Linked DNA regions of Homo sapiens: region 2 is linked to region 1. Evidence: fine-mapped expression QTL. Tissue or cell type: whole blood. Region 1 holds a variant in brackets; the other region holds the start of a gene. All regions are shown on one strand. Distances are between the middles of the regions.

Region 1 (8,104 bases):
CGAGCTCCTGGGGAGGAGGTTCTGGAGGAACGCCTGGCCGCTGCGGTTCAGGCGTTTGGAAGTTCTTGTGTGCTGGAGATGTGGCTGGGGTTTGTCTCACAGTGGAGACAAGGAATTGCAACTTTTTTCTATTGTTGTACACCTTGAAGGCGAGGTTAATTAAATCCTGGTGTGGGGTTTGAGGGCCAGAATTTAATTTTTGGAGTTTTATTTAATGTCGGGAGCAGATTGGGTAATAAAATGTATATTGAGAATAGGACGGCCTTTTGACCTTTTAGGGTGTAGGGCTGTAAAGCGTCTCAGGGTTGCTGCCGAACGAGCCATGAACTGGGCTGGGTTTTTTATATTTGATGAAAAAGAGCCTAAATGTTATCTGATTTGGGATAAAGAAAAAGGAGCATTAAACCTTGACTATGCCTTTAGCTCTAGTCACCTTTTTAAGAGCAAATTGCTGGGCAGGTAGGGGAGGGCTAGTCACGGAATGAAACTAAGCCAGACCAACTAAGCCAGAGCGGGTGTGAGGAGGGGAGGTGATAAAAGGATTATAGGGTGGAGGAGCGGAGGCTGAGGAAGAATTGGGATCTAGCTCGGCCTGGCGAGGAGCAGCCTGGGGAGGAGGGGAGAGGTCAGATGGGTCTGTAGAAAAGGAAGATTAGAAAGACTCAGTGACGCTTGGGGTTGGGACTGAGGGGACAGGTGGGAGGGAAAGAAGGAAGATTTGGGATGAGTTGCATTGGGAACAGAGACTAGAGAGGGACCGACGTGTAAAAGAATGCCTGGATGTCAGGCACCTCAGACCATTTGCCCATTTTATGACAAGAATTATTTAGATCTTGTAGGATGGAAAAATTGAAAGTGCCATTTTCTGGCTATTTGGAACTACTGTCGAGTTTGTATTGGGGTCAAGCGGCATTGCAGAAGAAAATAAGATGCTTAGATTTTAGGTCAGGTGAGAGTTGAAGAGGTTTTAAGTTCTTAAGAACACAGGCTAAGGGAGAAGAAGGAGGAATGGAAGGTGGAAGCTTGCCCATAGTAAAGGAGGCAAGCCCAGAGAAAACAGTAGAGACACGGAGAAGGGGTGGGGAGTTCTTGCCCTCCAGAAAAGCAGAGAAGGGGTTGGGGCACAAAGGTGCAGAGATATAAGAGGTTGGGGCGCGGAAATAAGGGATTGGGGTGCAGAGATATAAGAGGTTGGGGCATGGAAATAAGGGATCGGGGCACAGAGATATAAGGGGTTGGGGTGGGGAAATAAGGGATGGGGCGCAGAGATATAAGGGGTTGGGGTATTTGCCTCTCCCCTAGAAAAGCGGGACTTGCCGCTAAGGGTGAAGGAGAAGGGGTTGGGGGTTTCTTGCCCCCCAGAAAGGTGAAGAAGGGGTAGAGACATGGAGAGAAGGGGTTGGGGTATTGCCCCTTCCCCAGAAAAGCGGGACTTGCTGCTAAGGGTGAAGGACCAAGACAGGCGTCCCTGCATGGTCTGACACCTCTGAAACTTGGGTGAATAATCAGGCATCCCTGCAATGATTAAACACCAAGGGAAGGCTGCCTTCCCTAGTCCGTGACCGACACCGGAGTTTTGGGTCCACAGATAAAACGTGTCTCCTTCGTCTCTACCAGAAAATGAAAGGAATTGAAATTAAGAGAAGGGAAAGATTGAAGAGTGGAAAGGAGAAAGTGGTTGAGGGACAGTGAGAGAGCTTGGAGAAGAGAGTAAGAAGAGGCCGCTTACCCGATTTAAAATTGGTGAGATGTTCCTTGGGCTGGTCGGTCTGAGGACCTGAGGTCGTAGGTGGATCTTTCCCATGGAGCAAAGAACAGGAGGACAGGGGATTGATCTCCCAAGGGAGGTCCCCCAATCCGAGTCACAGCACCAAATTTCATGTGCGTCTGTGTAAAGAGACCACCAAACAGGCTTTGTGTGAGCAATAAAGCTTTTAATCACCTGGGTGCACGCGGGCTGAGTCCGAAAAGAGAGTCAGCAAAGGCAGATAGGGGTGGGGCCGTTTTATAAGATTTGGGTAGGTAAAGGAAAATTACAGTCAAAGGGGGTTGTTCTCTGGCGGGCAGGAGTGGGGGTCACAAGGTACTCAGTGGGGGAGCTTTTGAGCCAGGATGAGCCAGGAGAAGGAATTTCACAAGACAATGTCATCAGTTAAGGCAGGAACAGGCCATTTTCACTTTTTTTGTGGTGGAATGTCATCAGTTAAGGCAGGAACCCACCATCTGGATGTGTACGTGCAGGTCACAGGGGACATGATGGCTCAGCTTGGGCTCAGAGGCCTGACAAAGACAACTGCTTTTCTTCCAGGGCTGATGAGAGACCCAAAGGATAAATAGAGCTTAAAGCAAGTTGGAAGCCGTAGACCATTATGCAGATGCCATATATTATTACTTCTTTACAGTTGGGTTGGTTACTAGAGGACTCACCAGCCCCAGCACCCAGATCTCATGCCTCCTAGCCTTCATGGTTTCCAGAGACATTCTGAATAGCCACGGGCCGGCTGGTGCTGACAACTTGGTGTATTCTGGCCAATGGGGGAGGGAGCTGAACGAAGGGATGTGGGCAGGGAGCCATAGTTCTTCCTGCCAAAGCAGAATCTTTGCCTAATTTCCCCATGACAGTCCTACGTCCATGAAGAACTGAGGAGAATGACATCAGTAAGTCTTACACTCGAGTTTTCTGTCAGAGCAGGTGCAACTTCAAAACTGCTTCCGCCCTCAGGACCAGGCATTTCCTAAACACCCCTCCTCCTTCACTTCTCTTCTCACTGCTGCCTGTGGCTGAGGTATTCTTAATGACAAGCCATCGAGTCCATGATAATCAGCTGAGGAGTGATTCTCATTAGATTTCAGGGAAGGAAAAGGCTCAGGCCATGACTGAAGGATGGAAAATAAGAAGGAATATAGCTAACCTGGCCTCTTCACCTGACTCTACTTAGAGTCCATCTTGACAAGCAGATTGGAGTCATGACAGTTCAGACCTGAAATGCTGGTTTTTATTTAAAGGAGACAGGTGGGAAGAGGGGGATGGGAATAACAACACAGCCATTTGCTGCATAACTAATTACCAAAAATTAACAGCTTAAAACTTAAAACAGCTCCCATAGACCAGGAGTCCAGGTTCAGTGTCTCGCAGACTATAATCAGGGAGGGTCTAGCGTCCCATCTGAGGCTCAGAGGGGCAGGGGCGGGGCGGGGGGTGGTGGTGGTGGTGATGGTGGTGGTGGTCTTCCAAGCACACGTGGTTGTTGTCAGAATTGATTTCCTTGCAGCTGTAGAACTGAAGCATCTTGCCTCTTCAAGGCTAACAGGAAAGAGTGAGTCTCTGACTCTAGGCTTCTTACTTGACATTCTCCAGGAACTCACCTGATTAGGTCAGGCCCACCCAGGATTATCTCCCTTTTCATTAACTTCACCTCAACTGCAGGATTTCTTCACCTTTACTATATTCTACTTTTCAGAAGCAAGTTATACATCCCTCCCACAACTGAAGGGGAGAGGATGACACAAAGATGTGGATACCAGGCAAAGAAATCATAGAGGCCATTTAAAAATTCTACCTACTACATCCTCCGTTTGCTGAGCTCCATGTGTGTGTTGCAGGACTTTCTCCTTAGTTCAGCTAAAGA[C/T]GGGGTCCTTGTCAAACATCCATGAAATATTAGGCTTGCAGACACTTTGAAGGGTGAGAAAAATGGTATTTATTGGGCGAAAAGGGAAAAAAAAAAAGGAAAAACAGAGACTCTCCGGAAAGCCAGAGTCCTGCTACTGCACTTCCTGCCTGGCGAACTGAATCCCAGGTTCCACCCAGGAAGAGGGCGGCAGGCTCCTCCCCACTGCAAACCACGCGAACCTCCCAAGGCTCCACCCCAGCGTGCATTCCTCCCAGTGTGCAGGTCAGGGAGGCTCTGCCAGGGAGCACTTCCTACCTGGCTGTCTCATGTGGGGTGTGTGTTTGTGTGTGTAACAGAAATCAACTTGTTCCGACTCACCTTAGCAAAATCAGGGGGATTGGTTTTAAGGAAACGATGTCTTGTGGACCCAGGATACAAATGCAGCCTGACCTGTGGAAGGACAGGAGTTAGGGTGAGGAAAGCCATAGGGAAACTTGGATCCCTATGGCTTCATCATTCTCTCTCTCTCTGTGAACCAACTTTATCTGCTGTCCAATTTGTGCTTTACAGTTCCAGCCATGGTTCCAACAACCATGCTATCTCATCCCATTGTCTCTGGTAGAATCAGTATCTCTCTCTTTCTCTCCTCCATTCCCAGTTCTAAATTCTTAGAGAAGGAATCTTGGGTGGGCTGCTCATCTGTATTGTAGTTGTCTGTGGCCAGAGAGGACAGGATGCATGTTACAAGCATGGCTGCTGGGAATCCACCCATGGTGATCATGTAGCGAAGGGAGGATGGGGTCAGTTCCAGGAGAAAGAGGCTGAGGTCCCAAGAGATGTCCACTGCATGGTGTCAGGCTTTGTCATTAGTGGCCAGTATGTGCATATGCCACATCATCTGGTGCACAACTGAGCAGCAAGGCCTTTTGCTGGTGGAGGGGGCGGAATGAGACATGTTTAACAGTGTTCCACAGTTAGTACTATGTGCTGCATAAACCAGGGACTTGTTTCCAGCCGGAAGTGATGCTTCCTGTCAAAATCAGTTTACAGCTATGTTCCCATCACCCCAGCACTTAGAAGAAGGCTGATCCCACAGAAAGAATTCAGCAGCTGCAGAGAATGAGGATATAGGCACACAGGGCCCAATTTAGAGACACAGCCCTGCAGCATCTCATAAACCTTTTTTAGAAATGGCTGAGAAAGAGCTGCTTTGAGCAAGAAGTGAAAGTAAAGAAGGATTGGGTAATCAAAAGCCCGGAAGAAGGAAGGGAATCTTCCAGCACAGAGTGTAATGCTCATGTTTTGCTAAGAAGAAAGTGAGACACACAAAAGGCTCCAGACAGGGCGAGTTATTAAACCTCAGACATGCTGCTTAAGAGCTCTTACCAATTCTTACTTATGAGGAACTGGCTTCCAGATCTCTCGTGTGTCTTATAGTTGTTTTATACAAGTGTGCACAGGGAGGTATAAACTGGATGTGATTCTCACCCCAGGATGTGGGTGCTTACCAACCAGTCCTTCTGCAGTCTTCACATAGTTCAAAGCCAAAGGATCATTTCCAGCGCTGACATATTTGTGGAATCTTCAAGGGAAAGGAAAAGGCTAACCCAAGGCAAAGTGTTATTTGCTCACATCACTTAAGGAATTTTTTCAAAATTCTAGAGATTAACGGGTAAGTCTATAAAATTCAAAAGGAACTACTATATTAAAGTAGGGTTGTCATCACTTCTCCTTGCAGTTATTGTCTCCCTGTCCCCTGGCTCCAAGTGCATTGCATCATGAAAGGAAACTGTCACTCTTTTCAGCATTGGCTGTTCTGACTTGGTATTTTACTGCATGGTGATCTGATGCTGTTGGGGAGACAGGCATGTGGAGCATTTTAAGCCACGAAGGAAGGTATGTGAACTAAATCCACAACTCACCTCTTAGGAACAACTGCCTGAGGATAGGGTTCTTTCAGAAAACATAAGCTCTGGTGACAAATTCACTCAACTGATTGCTGCACCTTGTTTTAGAAAATGCTTCTAGAGGTAGCAAAATAATTCACATGAGGATTTATGAAGATGTACTTCATCCTTGATTTGGGAAGAGGTGAGAGAGACGATGTCCACCTACCACGGTTCACCCATGTGAACTTTCTTGTTACTCCTACTGTGTCATCCAGTCACTGAGCAAAGTCCTGGGCACACTTCATTAAACACAGTACCTGCTTTTGAAGAATTCACAGTCTCACAGGAGAGAAGTATGTGTAAACTGATGGTTAAAATACATCACAGTGTTAGGTGTTGCAGAGGGGAATGGGCAAAGCATTATTAGATCATAGAAGGAATGACTAGGCATGCAGCTCCTTCCAGACTCAGCTTGGGAATCCTCCCAGTCCGACGGCTGTGCTCTACCACTCTCTGCTCACTTTCCACATGACATTGGTACTTTGTGCTCCTGTGTCTCTCTCCCCAACAAGGCTTCAAGCCAGGGTTTCTCAGCTTTGGCATTATTGACATTTTGGGCCAAATTTTTGATGGTAGGGAGGGGGAGCCGTCTTGTGCGTTGTAGAATGCTTAGCATCATCTCTGCCCTCTACCCAGGATCGCTGCCCTCTGTCTGCCAGTAATACACACACACACATACACACATATGACACAGACACACACAACACACACATGAACACAGACACACACATACCCCCCACACTATTAATGGCAATACAAAGTCTCTGCCAAATGTCCCCTAGGCAGCAAAATCGCCCCAGTTGAGAGTCCCTGCTTTAAGCTGTTCCAGGGCAGCAATGACATTTTCTTCATCTCTGAATCCCTGGTGCCCAGGACATTTCTGTCACTGCGAACCAAACAGAATATGGCTTGGAGGGATGAGGGAAGCCTTAAATAAGAGAACTATCTGATTCGAAGTATAAAGAGGAATCATCTAGGTCAGCACTCTCCTATAGAACTTTCTGTGATGATGGAAATGTTCTATGTCTTCACTTTCCAATACAGTGGCTGCTACGTGTGGCCTTTGAGTACTTGAAATGTATGACTGAGGAACTGGATTGATTTCAATTACTTTAAATGTAGCCTTCAAAGGCCACATGTGATTAGAGCCTCCATCTTAGATAGCACAGCTCAAGCACTGAGTGGCCTGGCCCAGGGTAAGCACTACTCATCAAATGCAAGTTTGGGTTTCAATAGATTCCCAGATGATTCAAATATATATTCATACTTCCAGTTTTTCTGACCATTATCCAAGCGTAAAGCAATATATTTTGGAATAAATTGAATATTCCCATGCTTCCTTCTAAAGAGATAATAAAAGAGGCTGATCCCACCTATTGTAAAGCAACCAGGGATGCCATTATTGAGGGGCTTGAAGATAGATGCTGATGAAATTCTTAGAATCACCCCATTTATTTAAAAGCAGCCCATCTGACTATCTAAGCTTCCATGCATTTATCTAAATAATGGATATTGAGGGCCTACCAGATGCTATTGTTCGATGAGATCACAAAGATATGCAAAACAGCCAGAGAGAAAAATGTAGAAAAAACTATGCTGCACTGTTAGAAGGGCAGGAATGGAGTTGTGTGTGTGGTACAGGGAGGATACAGGGAAGGGAGATTCTAAGTGCCTGAGATGGACAGAGAAGTTTTGACAGCAGAGCTGACACTGAGCTGAGCTTTAAGTGAGAATTAGCTGAGTCAGTTTCCTAAACTTATCTGAACAGCCACCAGACACAAACACACACAAAAATCACCTAGGGACTTGTTAAAAAATAAATTCTCAAGTTTCTTCCCTGGAAATTCTTAGTATAGAACTCAGTTTTAGCAAGCATCCCGGGCAAATATAGGAAGTGAGTGTTAGGAGAATGGGGCCCATAATTACCATGTGCTGATAGAAACGGTGCCAAGGTCTTGATAATGTTTCTGATAGCTAAAACTATCAGTATATCACATTTGACTTATATTAGAAGGCAGGAATTTGAAAAATAAAAGAATGAAAGAGAAAGGAAAGCTACCCATACTTCCACCATGTAGACCTAATCATTGATATTTTTGATAAATATTCTGCTTGTCTTTTTGTGTACACTCACACACACTCACACGAAACTGGAAGAATACTATACCTATTCCGTTTTTTACATACTTTTTTATCTTACAATAATTTTAGATTTAAAGAAAAGTTGCCAAGATAGGACAAAGTGTTCACATATACCCTACACCCAGTTTTCCCTATTATTGTCTTATATTAGTACACTGCCTTTGTAACAGTTAATGTACTAATATTTATATGTTACTGTTATCAAAAATCCATACCTCATTCAGATTTCCTTAATTATTATTCATTGCTCTTTTTCTATTCCAAGATCGGATCCAAGATATATTATATTTAATTACCATGTCTCCTTAGGCCTATCTTGGCTGTGACAGTTTCTCAGTCTTTTCTTGTCTTTCTTGACCTCGACAAGTGTTTTGTAGACTTTCCTTAAACGGATATTTTTCT
Region 2 (8,095 bases), 130 kb before region 1:
AAATAGGAGAAAAATTATTCAAAACACTGCAGAATTTTCTGACCTGAGCTTCCTTATGCATTTAAAATGCAGATAGCCACACACCGCACCCCCCCCCCAACCCCGCCAAAAAGAAAAGAAAATAGAAAAGGTTACTTTGGGGGAATTTTATATATCAGAAATATTAGCAGGTCCTATAAAGTTACTTCTTTTTAATTTATTGGCCTGAAAAATCAAACTTTTACAATTTTCACTAGCAATTCCCATTTCATGTCATTAATTATTTTTTTCAAAAGTCTTTGTTTTATCATTTTCAAAGCATTTTCACAAATTACTATGAAGAAATGCAGCACTGATACCTAGAGGCTATACCTTTCAACAGAACTCTCACCAGCCAGACTGCTCATTTCAATTAGTTCAGCCATCTTTTCCCTAGGCCCTGGGTCCACACTTTTCCTTAGGGGTAGACATCAGAAAAGCTGAGCTCTACCCACAACAGCCTCTAGACTAACTGGCCCAGGGCAGACACTCTCAAGTCTGATCAGCGGAGTGCTTTCCCATAAAATCACTCACATTTCTGCATTCATGTGTTTTTCTTAACGACAGCACTTTAAAATCTCATTTAAACTGAAAATCCTCCATTAGCCTCCGTGAAAAGATGTATTTTTAAATGCTTTGATCTCCACATGCCCTTTGGAAAATTAGTATGCTACATCCTCCATCATCTGCAAAGAACCTGAAAGACCAAGACTTCTGTGCATTTTAAAAAGAAGGGGGAGGGAAAGGGGCGTTACAGGTACAGCACCTTCTCTCCTATCCACCTGCAGGTTTACAAAGGTTTCCTTATTTATCTTGAAAAATGCATCACAGAAAAACAAAAGTGCACTCCAAGAACTAAACATCCTCATCCCTCCCCCCAACCCCCACCACCATCATAAGGAAAAGTAGAGCCTGTATAAAGCCTTCTACCTATGTCCTACCCTTTTCATTCTGGTCGAATCGGTGTTTTCCTTCATTCTAGTCAAATCAGTGCTTTTCCACCCTTTACTAACAGTTCAAAGTATATTAAACTACTGTTCCCACATTATTCTCATAAAGAGCCTTCAAAGTAGATACACACTATAAGGCTCAGAGCACCTTACTAGGAAGTAAATGTCAGTTGCTCTAGATTCTTTAAGACCTTGCAATCTAGAGAGCTCCTTAATCGTTAACCTGGGTCTGACTTCCACAGCTGCCCGGGCCCAGGAGTGGTATGCAGCCAGGGGAAATCTTAGCCAGTTTGGCAGTGACCCATAGGCCAGTTTTGGAAGCAGGGAGCCATGATTGTTTAATATTTCAAGCCTTGACTTTTTGCTTCCCGAAAAGGAAGGAAATTTTCTGGAACTGTAGCTATTAATAGCCCTCTATTCTGGTTTAATTCGTTTATGGTGAGCAGGTTAGCACGTTACTGCTTTGGTTAGCCGAAAGCATCTTCGAGGTATCACAACTGGCTCTCGAGACCACGTACCCCACCACCACCAAGGCCTTCTATAAGCAGTACAAAAACTCAGTTCTCATAACATGCCTCAGGAGAAGAAAATGGGAAACCAAGGCCTCACAGAGAAAGGGAGCTGAGGGACCATGGGGACAAAATGTTGGGTCCAAACCGCATCGTCTCAGGAGGCCGCACGCTCAGGGCCCACCTCTGAAACCCCAGTCCAGGTGATCCACACGCTAGCCCGGCCAAAAGGTATTTGCCACGCGGAGACAGGAAACCAACACCGAAGCCAAAAAGGCAAAAATCTTCGAACAAAAATGGAAAAGGAAAGTCTTCCTAGTCATCAGTAAAGATAGGAAGAGTAGGGTGGGCGAGGCGCGGGAGCTTTGCGCAGATACCCGGGATTCTCGGCCTGGGGCTCTGAGGGGGGAAACTTGGACACGTCGCCGCGAGCGCAGTCCAGGTAGCGGAGGCCCTAGAGGTGCGCGCCAGGGCTCGTCTGCTCTGCCGCCGCGTCCTCCAGCCCGGCCGCCTATGGGGCACGCTCGGTCCCTGTCCCGGCACTAGGCCACCGTTCCGCTCGGCTGTCATCGGCCAACGTACCACTCTCCCTCCTGCCACAAATGTCACATTCCAAGAAAAAACAGTTCCATTTGGAAAGTTTAAATTTTCTCCCCGCGAAAGCAGATTATTGTAAAGGCAGCCCTAACAGGCAAGCGGGAGCTGGATGTAACTCTCCAGTTTGTCAAAGAAACTTGTCTGGGGAGAGAACAAAGAAGGAGCAGCAGCTAACGCGATCCGAGCGTCTGGGGCTGGGGTGCGACCCTTTCGTCGCCCCCACCCGCCAGAGCCGGGTCTGGCCGGCGGGCAGAAAGGGTCCAGTCCACAGCGCCAGAGCCCGTCGGGCGGGCCGGTGCGCGCGCCTTTGTCTCGCGCCGGGGAAAGCTGCACCGGACACCCCCTTCCGTCCCCTCCCTCGCCGCGAGACCCGCGCGCGGGCGCGGGCGCGCCTCGGAGTGTCTGGCCATATGGCTGCGCCCCTCAGGAAAGGCCAGCCCCGCGTCGGGCGCGCAGCACCCCGGGGCCCAAACCCCGGGGCCACAACTTCAGTCAACGTGGGTCGCGGGGCGGCAAGACGCTGAGGCCCGGCCCGCAGGCAACTGGACCTGGAGCGGGGCAAGGGAACCCGCTTAAAAACAACAATCTGGGATCTCAGCCCCGGGCCCCCAGAAGCTGCCCCCTTCCGTGAGCAGCAGGGGCCCGGGGAGCCCGGGGCGACTGGGTTCTTCGCGTGGGAGACTCGGAGACGCCCTCCCGGCACCTCGAGTGGGGGCTGGTTACCTTTCACCGCAGGCTCACAAGTTCCCCGGCGCAACTTTGCCCTCCACATGAGGCGATCATGGCTAGTTCAGTCCCTCGGCTGGGGAAGACGGCTGCCGGGCAGCGCGGGGAAGTGGCGCCGGACAATCAACCCCATTCACACAGGGCTTCACCTCCAGCCCCAAACCCGACAACCGCTGCTGGGTCCTAGAGCTTCTCGCGCGCTCCCGCCGCCGTCCGCGCTCCCCGCTCCCCGCGCGCGGGCCGGGGAGGGTCGCCCGGGCTCGTCACTAGAACCCTACACTCCACCCCCGCCGTGGCGCCCGGCCGCTGGGCCCTAGAGCCCGTCTGCAGACACCCGCCGCCCCTCCCCGGGCCGCGAGACTGCCAGGCTGAAATTGCCCAGAGCTCAAGCTGACGTGTCTCCCTGAGACTTAGGAGGGCGACAGCATCCCTTCCTTTGTCCCCTGCCGGGTTTTGATTAATTTCAGACTCACCAGTTCTCCCTCCACTTTGTCTTCCTTCCCCACCAGCCCAATGCCGGCCAAAATTCTGTTTCCGGATCTGCCCAAAAGTCTAGATTTGCTTAGGTTGGTTTTTTTTCTTCTTAAGTGGAATTTCCAGGTAGAAAGTGGCCACACTTTTCTCAGCATTCCCCAGGCCCCAGTGCTTCCATCACGCACTTGAGATTGGGCGATAAGCTGCTACTATGTGCTCCGTTGACAAACAGAAGGGCCAAAACAGACCTGACAGCCTCGGATATTAAATGTGTTCGCAGAACCGTACATCCTCTGGCCATAAATCCCCAGGCTGTTATCTGCCTGAGTAGAGGTAAAGAAAGTAAGCGACTCTGGGAAAATGTTGCCCCACCTCTTAAAATCAGGCTGTGCTGAGAACTACTCATCCACCTCATTATATTGGTTTATACTGGCGGCTCTCTGGAGCCCTAATCTGGGGTGCCCGAGCCTGCCCCATAGCACTTCTGCCTGGCTTTTTCCGGGCAGCTCTACTGCTTGGAGAAGAGAAAGCTAGGTAACTGTACAGTTGCTGCCCAGGATGTTAGTGGGAGAGTTAGCGCACACCAAGCCTCTCTTATCTGGTGCTCCCTGCCTCTGTTTACCTGCTATCTAGGTCCGGCCTTCAGGGACTCCTCCCTGGATTGTGGCAGTTCCCTAACTAGACTGCCAGCAGTTTTACCTCTCATCAGTTCTGGTGGGTTGCATGTCCTGATTCTGATTCCCCTGATGGGCCCTCCTACTGAGTAAACTCTGCTCTCAAGATAAAGCCCAAATGTAATCATTTAACAATTATTTATGAAATGCCTACTCCATTTAAAGTCATCTACCCTGGTACACACAAAAGAAACTTAGCACACAAAAGAAACTTAGAGCAGCTGACCAGCCCTTCAAGGATCTGTTATCTGTCTAAGAAGACAAGATGTGTGAACAGAAAACAGGCAAGCAACAAAGCAGGAGATCCAAGTACTGCAGATGCCTGGGAAGGGCGGAGAGAGGCACTGACTACACAGAAGGAAAAGCCTGGGAGGGTGGTGGAGTTCAGACACAGCAGAAAGAGGAAAAGGCAGCACTGGGCAAGCAGAGGCAAAAGCCAAGAGGGAGATGACAAGGTCTGGGTGCTTGGGAAGAAGGCATAGAGGAAAGCGTTTTTACCAGAAACGAGGAGAAAACAAGGGAAGGCAGAATAACAACGTCACAAAAATGTAGGCCTGGAAAGAATCTAAGAAAGTGTCAACTAAACCTTTCACTTGCCGGATGAAGAAGCTCAGGCATAGCTGTTGAATGACTTGTCCAATGTTACAGAACAAGTTTAGTAGCAAAGCCAGGTATAGAAACAACCTCTGCCTCAATGTGCCTTGTATTACACATTGTGAACCCTGAATCGCAAATTAGGAGCTGAAGTGGTTATCTTATGGACAGTGAAGGGACCACTGATTCACCTAACATTTGCGCGAATTTAATACAAATTGGGGAAGAAGTGATGGATAGAAAAAGAAGAAAGGAAACTAATCTTTACTAATTGCCCACTCCTAGATACCATCCTATAGTCTAGGAAGCAGCAAAATTTCCAAGTTACAACCATCAAGTTTAGAACAAAACAGGCATGAGCTGAGTTGCAGCTCCACCATTCAGTATCTGTGTGACGCTGAGCAAGTTGCCTAACTTCTCTAAACCTCAGTATCCTTTTTGGCAAGATGAAGAAAATAGCATCTCACAGAGTGGTTGTGAAGACTGAATAAAATAACAAATGTAAAATACTCAGCACAATGCATGTAGTATTCAATATACATTTGCTATTATTATTTCAAGAGACTATCTAGGATAGTTGCAGGAAGCAATGATAGGTGAGGTTGACAGAGGTGATAAAAAGGAAATGAGAGATACCATATCTTTGGAGATACCAGATGTCATAAAGAAAGGTATCAAATCTTTGAAGCAAGATTTTATTCTTCTCATTGACTCGTTGTTTATCCTGGGGAAAAGGACAAAGTAATCAAGTTAACCTAGGCTTTGAGCCCAGTCATAGGAAGAATAGATCTTGCAGTCTTAGAAGAATGGATCATTAGACCAATGACAGATGAAGCACAGTTGAGAAGAGGAAACGGTTTGAGAAAGATGCTGAGTGACTTACTATCCTCTGGGCAAGAGGAAACAAGGAACAAGGGACTGGGTGAGAAGTGGAGGACAGAGGTGTAGAGAAAAGGAGAGATGAAGCTTTGAAGATCAGTTCATTAACAGAATGTCCACAACTGGAAAACAGGGAAAGAAGGAGGGAGAAGAGGAAGAATCTGGAGAAGTAGAAGAGCTGGGAAAAGGTAAAGGCATGGAAGCCAGAGGAAGTTTTAAGAAGTGGGTCCTTCTATCAAATGCTACAGATTCTTAGACCTGCAATGAAGTGCTAGGCACAGCTTGTGGGTTCAAGGATCTTCTGATTCAATCAGGTGGACCTAGCCTAGACTCCTCAAATTAATACCCAGTAATCAGATACATGGAAGCACAGGCAGAAAACACTGCTGGAGACCAATGTTTCCCTCCTGTGCCTTAATTTCCTTATCTGTGAATAAGCTCTACATCAAATGCAGAAAACAATCTTTTCAGGCCTTAACTTAGTTCCTGAATCTATTGTTCAGGAACTAAGGCCTGCAAAAAAAGACTCTGAATTTCACTAGCAAGAAGTTATCAATAACATCTTTCAGTAAGCACACTTGGCTGGAGATTCTGATGTCTGGTTTGTGTCTAATGGAAACAAAGTATGTTTACAATAAAAATTGAACACACCTTCACTAACAGCAAGGTAGTGAACCAGTCCACATCTGTGCCTTCTTTAGATCTATGCACTCATCCTAAAGGTCAGCATCCTTTCTAAAGTGACCCAAGTTGTCATTTACTCATTCCTAAGAAAGCTAAGAAGATGATGGGCCAATTTTAGTGCTCTTTGGGGCAGCCCAGAGAGCAGTCTTTCACTCAAAACAGGACGAGTACCAGGATGTTCCAGTGATACCAAGCTGTTCCCAACAAGCATAGAGGCGGGAAGAATGTTGAAGTAACAGAGGCATCTGGATAGAGGAGAATGAGCAGGGCCTTTACAGTAAGACCTGCTTCTAGTCCATGTTCTATCTATTTCTAGACACGGAGAGCCTCAGCTTCCTCCTCTATAAAATAATAACATTTGCCTCATAAACTTATTGCAAGGGTTAAATGAGATAATACAGGTCAAGTGCTGGGCACATCTAGGAATTCAGTAAAAGTTAGAAACCCTCCTCTTCTCCAGTAATTTGAAATACCAAGGAATTTAAATACTCTATTAAAATGCAAATGTCTTTCTCCTCTCACTTTTCTCAGCACCCCTTCTTGACAAACATTTAAAGTCTTTACCAGCTAATACTTTCACTGAATGGGCCCTAAGAATGGGCTTGGGCTTGCAAAGACAGAGAAGCCAAACAGCAAAAGAAGAGTGGATGAACATGACTACGTAAGGAACAGCTACTACACACAGCCTCACCTGGGACCATCGCTACAACTGGTAGTTCTCCATTAATGACTGTTGAATGAACAAACCAATGATTTGATGCACCCAGGCTGCTTTGATCAAAATGCTTGTTTTGCTCCTAGAACAAGTAAGGATATTTTTTAAGTTCAATTTCAAGCACTTTCTGAAGTGTAACTTATGAAACCAAAGCATGTAAAAATTTAAACTCCTCATGTTCCACCTCCAAATTTCTGAATCTCTAAAGGTGCAGTCCTAGAATCCACTCGAAATGACTCCTAGCACATTGAGGTTTCCAGCTGGCTCACTGGGGTTAGTCAGTGCTCCTGCAATTCACTTTCAGAAGTATTTACTACATCAGAGTGTAGTATGCTAAAGATAAAAAATGATGGTGAACACACTAGAGATTAGACACAAAGCATTATGGGAGCATAGAGGAATGATGCACAGGAAAAAAACGGGCAAGTTCCAAGAAATCCAGGTGCTGAGAGGAGGATATTTCGAGCAAAGGCATGGACACAAGGAAGGAAAGCATACGCTGCCATGCTTCTAAACACCTTTTCTTTTAATTTCTTCTTTTTATAAACATCAAATGGTCACATCAACCCCAGAGTTAATAAACCCCTATATAATCACCAGGTGAGAAGTTTTTTTCCAACCTTTTCTTTCAGTTCTCTGTTTTACAATGGCAATACAGCAGACCCTTGCACAACACAGGTTTGAACAGTGCAGGTCAACTTACACACAGATCTTCCTCCACCTCTGCCACCCTGAACCAGCAAGCCCAACCCACCCCCTTCTTCCTCCTCCTCAGCCTACTCAATGTGAAGATGACAAGGATGAAGACTTTTATGATGATCATCTCTGCCTTGTGATTTTCTTAATAACATTTTCTTTTCTATAGCTTATTATTTATTGTAAGAATACAGTATTAATACATATAACATATGAAATATGTGTTAATCAACTGTTTATATTATCGGTAAGGCTTCCAGTCAACAGTAGGCTATTAGCAGTTAAGTTTTTGGGGAGTCAGAAGTTATATTTGGATTTTCAACTGTGTGAGGGGGTCAGCGCCCGTGACTCCTGCATTGTTCAAGGGTCAACTCTAGTGTGTTTTTTCCTGCCTTTTTCTAAATATAAAATAATATTCTCAAATAAGCTTTTTCACACAGCACATGCCTCCTCTGAAGATTCTGACACATGCCCTGCCCTGCAAACTGTTGGCAGGAGCATAATTCAGGGAATACTGGCAGTGTCTAAAGCAGAGAGTACTGAGTGTACATTGTCGTAAGGAGAGGAAAGGGCAAGGGG

The links. PIP is the estimated chance that this variant, and not a neighbour inherited with it, causes the effect.
Region 2: AMOTL1 starts here. The variant in region 1 is fine-mapped to the expression of AMOTL1 in whole blood (TOPMed, PIP 0.91).

What each region holds. Positions count from the first base shown.
Region 1 is chr11:94,635,783-94,643,886 of GRCh38, reverse strand. All of the region lies in intron 4 of PIWIL4-AS1 (PIWIL4 antisense RNA 1), which reads left to right. It overlaps LINC02700 (long intergenic non-protein coding RNA 2700), which reads right to left and starts at 5,844. Exons shown (of 6, transcript NR_187352.1): 1 at 5,534-5,844. RefSeq lists an enhancer at 3,373-3,872. The variant C/T (reference allele first, on the strand shown) is at 3,630.
Region 2 is chr11:94,763,263-94,771,357 of GRCh38, reverse strand. AMOTL1 (angiomotin like 1) reads right to left here and starts at 3,002. Exons shown (of 13, transcript NM_130847.3): 1 at 2,798-3,002. The coding sequence starts at 2,846.